3 linked regions of the Homo sapiens genome follow. The protein of the gene in region 1 purifies or fractionates together with the protein of each later gene. This does not show direct contact. Each region holds a gene or a part of one and is shown on either strand. Other genes may lie near its edges.

Region 1 (3,696 bases):
AATCTGTAGATTGCTTTGGGGAGTTTGACCATTTTATTATTCTTCCAATCCATGATCATGGAATGTTTTTCCATTTGTTTCTGTCATCTATGATTTATTTCAGCAGCGTTTTGTAGTTTTCTTTGTAGAGACCTTTTACTTCCTTGGTTAGAGGTGAAACCAAGGGGTGTGTGTGTATGTGTGTGTGTACTGTAAATTAGGCTATGTTCTTCATTTGGCTCTCAGCTTGAACATTATTGGTGTAAAGATATGGTACTGATTTTTGTACATTGATTTTGTATCCTGACACTTTACTGAAGTCATTTTTCAGTTCCAAAAGTCTTTGGCAGTCTTTAGGGATTCCTAGGAGAGATAGTTTGACTTCTTCTTTTCCTATTTGGATGCCTTTTCTTTCTTTCTCTTGCCTGATTGCTCTGGCTTGCACTTCCGGTACTGTGTTCAACAGGAGTGGGAAGAGTGGGCATCCTTGTCTTGTTCCAGTTCTCAAGGGGGATGCTTCCTAAAATGTCAATTTGAAAGCCTGATTTTTGTCTTTGACTTTGAACACTGAAAGACAATCCAGAGAACTAGCAAATTTACATTTAAAAACCTGCCTTTTAAGTTTTTAAAAACTATGAATTTAAAATTGCTTCTTTTAAAATTGGGTTTTAAATTTTTGATTCTACAAGAAAATTTTCATTCAACAAGCACTTAGGACCTGTTCTGAGTTTCTTCAGAGCCTTTCTTAAAAGATAAGGCACATATTGAAGGTAGAGTTATTAAGAATGAGAAGGTGGAGAAAAAATAAAAATAAATAAATAAACAATGCAGCTCTCATCCAAAATCCTAATGGCCCAAAAAAGCTACAAAAAAAGATGCCTGAGAGGCCACCCCTCCTTTCATATTAAAAAGCTATAGTGATTTGTAGAGTCAGAGCTTAACAAATCACCCTATTCTTCATCCTTTCCTTCACTAAGTTGTCAGACAGATGCAGAATAGAAATCAGCAATGTGAAATTGTGGTTTCTCAACTGAATGAGGAATTTTTCACCATGACTTTAATGTTCCTCTGTCATGGGCCCTAATGGGAAACTACCAAAAGTTATAAAATTCGATTATACTATGGGAATCCACAGAAGGGGGTAAAGAGAAAGCAAAGGCAAAAAAGAAATGTCTTTATTTTGAACCCTAATCATTTATTTAAAAGCTGTGTCTCATCTAAACACAGAACAATGGGATAGGGAAAGCTCCTGCTTCCGGATCCCTTTTTCAGAAGCAGCTTCCTAGCTTCTCTCTGGAAGAAAGGAAAGATGATAGGGCTAGCCCATAGCTTCTCAGCCTTGGCAACATTGACAATTTGCACTAGGTAATCTTTTGTTGTGAGGAGGTACATTATAGAATGTTAGTAGCATCCCTGGTCTCTACCCACTGGATGCCACCAGCGCCACTCCAGTCATGACAATCAAAATATCTCCAGACACTGTAAAATTGCCCCTGGTTGAGAAGCATTAGGCTAGTTCCCGCACAATTTTTTTTTTTAATTTTTCTTTAGTTCTTTAAGATCCTTTCAAGTGAGGGAATGGACTGCCACAGTCAGCAACAAGATGACTGGCAAACTCTTGTCTTCTGGAAACTTTTTCCTACTATGGCATATTTTATTATTTTGTCAGAAAATCCATTTCTATACCTCTCTTAATACTCCATTTAATATTTCTTAAAGATAATACATTTAAAGACGTAAAAGAAGATAAAAGAGAAACATCCTTAGAACTAGGCAACATAAGACCATTCTACATTAATTCATCTTACCTCCATAGGAAACTGTCATAAAAAGCACCCAAAATTTAAAATAGTAAAAGAGAGGTTAAAACCCACCTCAATACACAGATAGTAACAAACAACAAGGAATAAAACCCACTATTATTCTTCCATCTTAAAAAAGCAAATCTTTTTTCAACTCCACAACTCCCATCCCCAGCCATATCATTTCTTTGCTCCCTTTAAAGCAAAACCCTTCAAAACAGTTAACTGTGCTGTCTTTAATTTTCCTCCTCTTCATTCTCTCTTAACCCACTTCACTCAAAGCATCATTGCCACCACTTCACCTGGGCTGTCTTTGACTTTCATATTAATTAATTAAGGTCTTCAATGACTTTCATATTAATAAATACAATGGCCATTTCTCAACCCTGATCTTACCTGACCTATGGGCAGCGTTTGACACTGTTGATTATCATTTTCCTCCTTGATACACTTTCTTCCTTGGTTCCAAGACCCCACACCCACTTCTTAGTCACCAGTTGCTCTTTCTCAATCTCCTTTACTGACTCCTCCCCTTCTCACTTATCTCTTAATAATGGAGCAGCCCTGGGCTCAGATCATTTCTCTCAATCTATACTCAATTCCCAGTGAGTCTTCCAGTCTGTGATCTTAAATACCACCAATGTTCTGATGAATTCCAAATTCATATGATCAGCCCAAGCCTCTCTCCAAGACTCCAGACTTACATATCCAGCTTCCTACTTGTCATCTTCACTTGTATATCAAATAAATATTTCAAACCCAAATGTGTCCAAAACTAAACTTCTGATCCTTCCCCATAAACTTGCCCCTTCTACAATCTTCAAATAGTAGTTGATGCCAAGTCCACCTTCTCTTAGTTGTTTAGGTCAAAAACTGTGCATTAATCCATCACTCCTTTCTTTCTCTCACATGAAACATCCTGTTAGTTTTTAAAATTATATAAGTTCTACCTTAAAAATATATTCAGTATCCTTCCATTTCTCATGTTCACCACTGCTTCTACCCTGATAGATGCCACTATCATCTCTCAACTGAATTATTTTTTATAAGCAACTTTTTATTTTAAAATATTAATTGACAAATAAAGACTGTATGTATTCAAAGTGTACAACATGATGATTTGGTATATGTACACGTTGTATAATAAATAATTATTACAACCAAATTTAATAACACATCTGACATAGTTTGGGCTGTGTCCCCACCCAAATCTCATCTTGAATTGTAACTCCCATAATTCCCACATGTCATGGGAGGGACCCAGTGGGAGGTAATTGAATCATGGGGGTGGGTCTTTGCCATGCTGTTTTCATGATAGTAAGTCTCATGAGATCTGATGGTTTTATAAAGGGGAGTTCCCCTGTACATGCTATCTTGCATGCTGCCATGTAAGATGTGACTTTGTTCCTCATTCACCTTCTGCCATGATGGTGAGGCCTCACCAGCCATGTGGAACTGTGAGTCAATTAAACCTCTTTCCTTTATAAGTTACCCAATCTTGGGTATGTCTTCATTAGCAGCATGAAAACAAACTAATACAATATCCATCACTATCTATGCTGTATATTATGTCCCCAGAACTTGTCTTATAACTGTAAGTTTGTACTGTTTGACTAGTATCTCCTCACTTCTCCCACTCCCCCAGCCTTTGGCAACCACCATTCTACTCACTGCTTCTATGAGTTCAATAATTTTGGATTCCACATATAAGTGAGATCATACAGTATTTTTCTTTTTGTGCCTGGTTGATTTCACTTAGTATAAAGTCCTCCAGGTTTATCCATGTTGTTGTAAGTCAATAGCAAAAACAAAACAAAACAAAACAAAAAACAAAAAAAAACAAATAACCCAACTTAAAAATAGGCAAAGGAACTGAAAATATATTTTTCCAGAGAAAAAGATATGGAATCAACCT
Region 2 (3,696 bases), on another chromosome or scaffold:
GAGGGGCTTATCATTGTTTTTTAAAAACAAAAAGAGGCCGGGTGCAGTGGCTAACACCTGTAATCCCAGCACTTTGGGAGGCTGAGGAGGGTGATGTCACCTGAGGTCGGTAGTTCAAAATCAGCCTGACCAATATGGTGAAACCCCGTATCTATTAAAAATACAAAAAAATAAGCTGGGCGTCGTGGTGTGCACCTATAGTCCCATCTACTCAGGAGCCTGAAACGAGAATTGCTTGAATCTGGGAGGCAAAGGTTGCACCACTGCACTCCAGCCTGGGCAAGACAGAGCGAGACTCCATCTCAAAAAAAAAAAAAAATTAAAAAAAGAGTGGTACAACTCACTGAAGATAAAATCTGGGCAGAACTTTTCCAAAAATAAATTAGTTAAATAATATAGAGCATTTTGCAACAGTAGTCATTCCCAAGAGACTTCCAGCCTGGGGGACGCAGCCAGTCTACCAACTTATAGGGGCCCTGAGCCAGGAAATCCATTTCAAAGCCTACTGAAACAGCCCCTTCCTTCTCTCTTCCTCCTCTCCTTTCTTCACTCACTGTCCCTTTCCTTCTGTCCCGCTTCTCCACTGTCCATAGTCGGAATTGCCTTCCTTCCCCTACTTTCCCTTTTGCTTTATTTTCTTGATTAAGGATTTATTTTTCCAAGACCTAGTCTTGCTTTCACAGAATCTCCAGTCACACTGACTTTGGGGGCAGAGAGGACACTGCTCCTTCCCCCACCTCCACCCTGTGTGTGGCATCAGCAATTTAGACATAATGAGATGGTAAGCTTGACAGCTGTCTTTGAAATGTATGCCCATTATAAAGTCAAATGGTGAGACATGCATGTGGGCATGTTTTAAACAACCATTCCTAACAGTTTCATATAATGGATTCACTCATGTTATCTCATTATCTCTGGGCCTCTTTTATAAGATCAGAGAGGTTAACAATGTGGCCAGTGTATTCATTTGCCCATTGGCTGATTAAAAATGTATATGTATTTGGCCAAGGTCTCCCAGCTTGAAAGTGGCAAAATTGGGACTTGAACTTCAGTTCTTGGCACTGTGTTTCCTGCCATATTTCTTAGGTGAAGGGACATTTGGCCTTTGACTAAACTAGAAGCCAAATCTAAATAACTAAAGAACCCAAACAGAGTAAGATCAACTGCTTTACTGGGCTTACCAAGTGTCATTTAGGGAATTTTCCCATCCTTTGGTGTTAGAGCCAAATTTCCTCATCTTTGGGGGAAATTTTGGAACGTGACTTCTCACTTCCCAACAGAGGGAATTGCAAAAGTCAGGTGTTTTCAACAAGAACATTGAATCGATTGAAGACTTTGGATAAATGCTAAGTGGAGACCTGTGGTTCCATGCCATAAAGCATGGAATATACCATTTTGACCTGAAAAATATCGAAGCCAGTTGTTAACACTTTGCTGCTTTGTCCTGTAAAATCCTTTAGAAGAAAAAAACCAAAACCTGAGTAGTACCTGTAACTAATTTTAACTAGGTCTTAAGTCAGCAGTTCTCAAAGTGTGATCTCCAGACTAGCAGCACCAGGAACACAGGAACTTGCTAAAAATGCAAATTCTCAGTCTCCACCCCAGACCTAGTAAATTAGAAACTCTGAGAGTTAAACCCAAAAATCTTGTTTTAACAAGTCCTTCAGATAATTCTGATGCTGAGGTTTGAGAATCACTGATTTAAACCATCAAGAGAAAACTCTATTTGCCCACTCAAATGGGCAGTAGTATAACTAGAAGCCTGGAATCTCTGCATGTATGTGTCCCATATGCTCTGCAAAAAGGCACGTATTCTTAACTGGTGTTTTGTGATTCGATTGGTTGTGCTTAGAATTTGCTTGGTTCTCTTGCAAAATATCCTGAAGTTGGTTAAAGAAAGGATTGATCGTGTCCAGTAAAATAATGCGTCTTGTCAGTAGTTGACAAGGAGCCACTGTTGAGACCTTGCCGGATACAAAGCCAACTTCAAGCCTACTCTCTTTCCCAACATGTCAGCCTTAACCATCCCCTCTCCTATTTCCAGCAGAAATCTTTTCTCTTTCAACGTGTAATACCAATTCTGCCCCAAAGGAAAGAGAAGGCAAAATGAGCAGAATTTGTGGTTTTGTCCGTTCACTAGCGCTAATGCAGTGAAGGAGGGATGAAAACGCTTTAGGAGATGGTATGATTGGGAAGGATATTATGCCATGTACCATTTCCCTTCTTCCCCCAGTGCCAGCCGCTGATGAGTGGTTTCACATTCCTGTACTGGGTGGCACACAACCTAGTCTGTTTTCACTGCTAGCAAGGATTCACAGTGCCAGTCTGTTATGTACACCCAGAGAACAGGGGTGACAGAGACACCCTCCTGCCTTTTAGAAGAGATATTTGATCCATATTTTTCCTGCCTGGAATCGTGGAGACTCCTGTCTGGTCTGGCTGCAGCCTGACCCTCCGGATGCCTTCAGTTGTGGGTGTTTGACACATCAGGAAAGTCACAAGTCTGACTCCTGTGATTTGAGGAGACAGCTGGGAAACCTCCCTGCTGTGGTCCCAGCCAGCATAGGAGCATGACCCTACATCCAGGGATGGGCTTAGTCCAAATCAGAAATGCCTGTGTTCTCTCAGGCCTTAGCCTCCAGCTTCCCGACACTGAGACCTAGGGCATGAGAGCTTCCCTGCTGGAGTCCTACCTTATTCTCACCAAGTCACCCCCGACTGACCCTTTGGGCCTTTGGCAATAGTATAAATGGGTGTTTTAAACTTCTCCATGGGCAACCACCCTGCTCTCAGAAGATGCCCTCCATCCTCTCCAGGGTCTCAGAAGGCTTGGCTCTTCCAGGTGCCAATAAAAATGAACAGTGGGAGCTGGTGGCAGACCAGCAAAGGGCCGCCTCACTGTCCCTGCTGGACTGCTACAGCGTGGGTAAGGCCCCCATTCGTGGATCTCAGGCCTCAGAGGCCGAGGGTTCCAAGCACCCCAGCGAGGCTGCCCCCGAGCCTGGGAAGGCTGGCTGCATCCGGGTGGTCTCTGCCTAGCTGCTCCTAAGCTCCTGCCCTCTTCCTTCCAGATCACACGGCAGCAATATCAGAACGCACTCACTGCCTGCCACATGGACAGCTCACCTCAGTCCCCTGACATGGAGGCCTTCACAGACGGGGACTCCACTAAGGCCCCCACAACCCGGGGCACACCCCAGACCCCTAAGGATGACCCCGCCATCACGCTCCTCAACAACAGGAACAGCCTGCCGTGTAAGTCAGCTGGGCAGACGGGCAGGCTGGGCTGGTGTGGGGTGAGGATGACCCTGCCTTCCTCTTCTAGCCCTTCCCAGGGCTCACACCACCTGAGCCCTGGGTCTTCTCCAAAGCAGAGAGGTGATGCACTCACTGTCCTCCCCAGGCAGCCGCTCAGACGGGCTGAGAAGCCCCAGCGAGGTAGTGTACCTGAGGATGGAGGAGCTGGCCTTCACCCAGGAAGAAATGACTGACTTCGAGGAGCACAGCACACAGCAGCTCACGCTGTCTCCTGCAGCCGTTCCCACGAGAGCAGGTCAGGGAGGCCAGCTGGGCCCAGTGCAGCAAGGGAGATCATTGCCTTTGGGCACTGGGATGGCCCAGGGAAAGCTGGCTGAGGGGAGCCCTGGGACCGCAGCCCGTGCGTTAAACCTCCGACCTCCTTACACAGCCAGGGAA
Region 3 (3,573 bases), on another chromosome or scaffold:
TTTGTGCTTTTTGCCCCTTTTATGTGATGTCTATGGCAGCATGACAGTGATATATCAGCATATACTTACGAGCGCACTTTGATGATGGAACAAAGGTCCCAGATGCTCCGGCACATGCGGCTATCCAAAACAGAGCGAGACAGAGAGGTGAGACATTACTGCATCAATCCAATCCGTGCTCTCTAAAGTCTGTCACTGAAAGGGATGATACTGGGCTGGGCATGGTGGCTCACGCCTGTAATCCCAGCACTTTTGGAGGCCGAGGCGGGTGGATCAAGAGGTCAGGAGTTCAAGACCAGCCTGGCCAAGATGGTGAAACCCCATCTGTACTAAAGTACGAAAATTAGCCGGGCATGGTGGCACATGCCTGTAATCCCAGCTACTCAGGAGGCTGAGGCAGAGAAGTGCTTAAACCCAGGAGGCGGAGGTTGCAGTGAGCCAAGATCACGCCACTGCACTCCAGCCTGCGTGACAGAGGAAGACTCTGTCTCAAACCAAAAAAAAAAGGGATGATACTATATTGTTTTCAAGGATGACAAATTCCTTCTCACTCTGTCAGTTATTCCACTATAACCCATTACTGCTTCAAAATAACCAAAGATGAAGCATAAGAGAAAATTTGGTAGAATAACTTGTGTTGGACCTTCTTCCTCAGGCACAATTGGTGAAAGACCGAAACTCAATGCTACGATTGACCAGCATTGGCTCTGATGAGGACGAAGAGACAGAAACCTATCAGGAGAAGGTGCACATGACTTGGACAAAAGACAAGTACATGGCATCCCGGGGACAAAAAGCGAAGTCAATGGAAGGATTCCAGGACCTGCTTAACATGCGTCCGTAAGTTTTCCCACTCCCAAGTTTATCATAAAATTACCTAATCAGTGGCACAAATGTGACTTTGCCTGGACACACAGGATGGAGTCTGTTCATTTCACCCTGAATCTAGCCACCTCATTATTGTTTGCCTGTTCATACTGGCTCCCAATGAACACTGTACACAAGCTAACCATCCCCTCTATCCACATAGTTCACCTCCATACTGTGTTCTTACTATAAAATAAGCCAACAGAGAATGAGAAAACCCAGATATTAATATCATAAAGAAACCATTTTAGCCTGGGCACAGTGGCTCACGCCTGTAATCCCAGCACTTTGGGAGGCAGAGGCGGGTGGATCACCTGAGGTCAGGAGTTCGAGACCAGCCTGCCCAACATGGTGAAACCCTGTTTTTACTAAAAATACAAAAAAAATTAGCCGGGTATGGTGGTGGGGGCCTGTAATCCCAGCTACTCGGGAGGCTGAGGCAGGAGAATCACTTGAACCTGGGAGGCGGAGGTTGCTGTGAGCTGAGATTGTACCATTGCACTCCAGCCTGGGTGACATGAGCGAAACTCCCTCTCAAAAAAAAAAAAAAAAAAAATCATTTTATCAGATTATCCATAGTCAAGTGAAAAAGCTCAGGATCTCAAGTTTTTAACGTTGACTTTATGGCTAGTTGTCTTTTTACCTTAACAACCTTTATTTCTTCCCCACTCAGGGACCAGTCCAATGTGAGGCGGATGCATACAGCAGTGAAACTCAACGAGGTTATAGTTAACAAGTCCCATGAAGCAAAGCTGGTTTTATTGAATATGCCAGGGCCACCCCGAAACCCTGAGGGTGATGAAAACTGTATCCTTTCCAAGAGTGGGGCTTCCAGTAGGGAAAATCTCCTTAACCTCTTTCTGAGATAACTAGGTAACAATAAAAGTCATTGTCTATGCCCCACTTTCCCTCTTTAAGGAAGGGAGACTTAAAAGTCCTAGGCAAGGATTTTTACAAAGTTATAAGATTAAACTCTTTTAGGGGAGTTGGGGCAAATATAATTCAGTTCTAGTTTTAGGTGGTGTATTTGCAACATGACATCTAATATTCAGTGTATAAAACCCTTCCTGACAATCCTACAGACAGCATACCCACATCCTTTCGCCTTTTTAGGTTCTACCCGCTTTGCAAAGCCTTTCTTTTGGATAGAGTTAGGGGAGAAGCTGAGATAGAACCTCCTTTAACTGAGGGGAAAAAAGAGATAGGGATTCTTCCTCATACCTTCATCCCAGGACTCCTGGGATACGGGAAACCCTTCAGCATTGACACATAAATTAGCTTATTCCCACCAGTACCATTAAGAAAGAAGAGGTTTAGGCCAGGTGTGGTGGCTCATGCCTGTAATCCCAGCACTTTGGGAGGCTAAGGCAGGTGGATCACCTGAGGTCAGGAGTTCGAGACCAGCCTGGCCAACATGGTGAAACCCCGTCTCCACTAAAAATAGAAAAGTTAGCTGGGTGTGGTAGCAGGTGCCTGTAATCCCAGCTACTCGGGAGGCTGAGGCAGGAGAATCACTTGAACCAGGAGGTGGAGGTTGCAGTGAGCCAAGATCGCACCATTGCACTCCAGCCTGGGCAACAAGAGGAAATTCTGTCTCAAAAAAAAAAGAAAGAAAAGAAAAAGGTTTAAAAAGAAAAAGACAAACCGAACTGGCAGAAAAATCTGACTTGAGCAGCTTCACTTAGAAATTACTTGGGTTCTCTCTAGGAATCTTGTTAGCTGCCCTATTGTGGCTTTTCTTCTTCTTTCATCATTTTTATCTTATTTAGAGTAACACTTCTAGGTTTTCCCATTTTTTAAATACACAAATGGGAGTCTGGTATTATGTATGCAAAAGGACTGGATCTCTGGTTACTTCACAGGGTTAAATTCAATCCAAAGTTCAGACTTTTCTGAATATATAATAATTAAGCAGCTAATTTTGTAGCTCTATGATCAGATAACCTCAGATTATGATGATGCCAGGTTTTAAGTTTGTGCTCTTCTTTTGCCTGTCTCCTTGACAAGTTTTGAAGACATGGAGTTCCTAGAGGTGCTTACCGAGGGACTAGAGCGAGTCCTACTTGTCCGGGGTGGTGGCAGTGAAGTGATCACCATTTATTCATAACCTACTCTGAATGACCGTGCTTGACCTGTTTTCTTAAAAGGCCTACGTCCTCCATGGAAGTGCCAGCTCATTACTACCACTCCCACTCAACTAGAAGCCTGTGTTCTGTACACATCATACTGAACTCTTGATGAGCTGAGCCTCAAGTACCTGTGTAAAAGAGCTCCCATCTGATCTGCAGTCATTACAGAAAAAGCAAATATTCCCTCAACATCAGAACAATGCTCAAGTCTTTCAAGCCACGTCTGAGCAGTCAAAGGCAAATTAGAATTAACAAGCTGAGCCAATAAATGAATTGGTAAAAGGGATGCTAGAAATTCAACTGAAGAAAAAAAGCAAGTCAAGTACGTATTCAGCATTAAAGATGAATCTCAGAAGTCATGGTTCAATGTTGACACTGTGAGGATAACAACTAGAGACAGCTTCATCTTACTAAAGAATTTATGGTCAAGTATATTTGGACCTATTATCCTCGGCAAGCCAAGATGCAAACATTTTTTAGCTATATTTCTTTAGTATACCCACTGCTGTAATTTTATATTAGGATACTAACTTGAAACATGGCTGCAGCCTCTACTTCTTCAAAAACATCCCCCCAA

Evidence for each region.
Region 2: the proteins of SLC44A5 (region 1) and CNNM1 purify together in Homo sapiens (affinity purification with mass spectrometry; one large-scale study listed by BioGRID and IntAct). This does not show direct contact.
Region 3: the proteins of SLC44A5 (region 1) and SLC12A6 purify together in Homo sapiens (affinity purification with mass spectrometry; one large-scale study listed by BioGRID and IntAct). This does not show direct contact.

The regions. Positions count from the first base shown.
Region 1 is NC_000001.11:75,604,591-75,608,286, forward strand, and holds part of SLC44A5 (choline transporter-like protein 5), read right to left. Parts: intron 1-3,696.
Region 2 is NC_000010.11:99,384,749-99,388,444, forward strand, and holds part of CNNM1 (metal transporter CNNM1), read left to right. Parts: intron 1-3,071; coding exon 3,072-3,255; intron 3,256-3,403; coding exon 3,404-3,553; intron 3,554-3,696. UniProt on the Homo sapiens protein: Probable metal transporter.
Region 3 is NC_000015.10:34,233,282-34,236,854, reverse strand, and holds part of SLC12A6 (solute carrier family 12 member 6), read left to right. Parts: intron 1-39; coding exon 40-147; intron 148-655; coding exon 656-840; intron 841-1,540; coding exon 1,541-1,674; intron 1,675-2,882; coding exon 2,883-2,974; 3' UTR 2,975-3,573.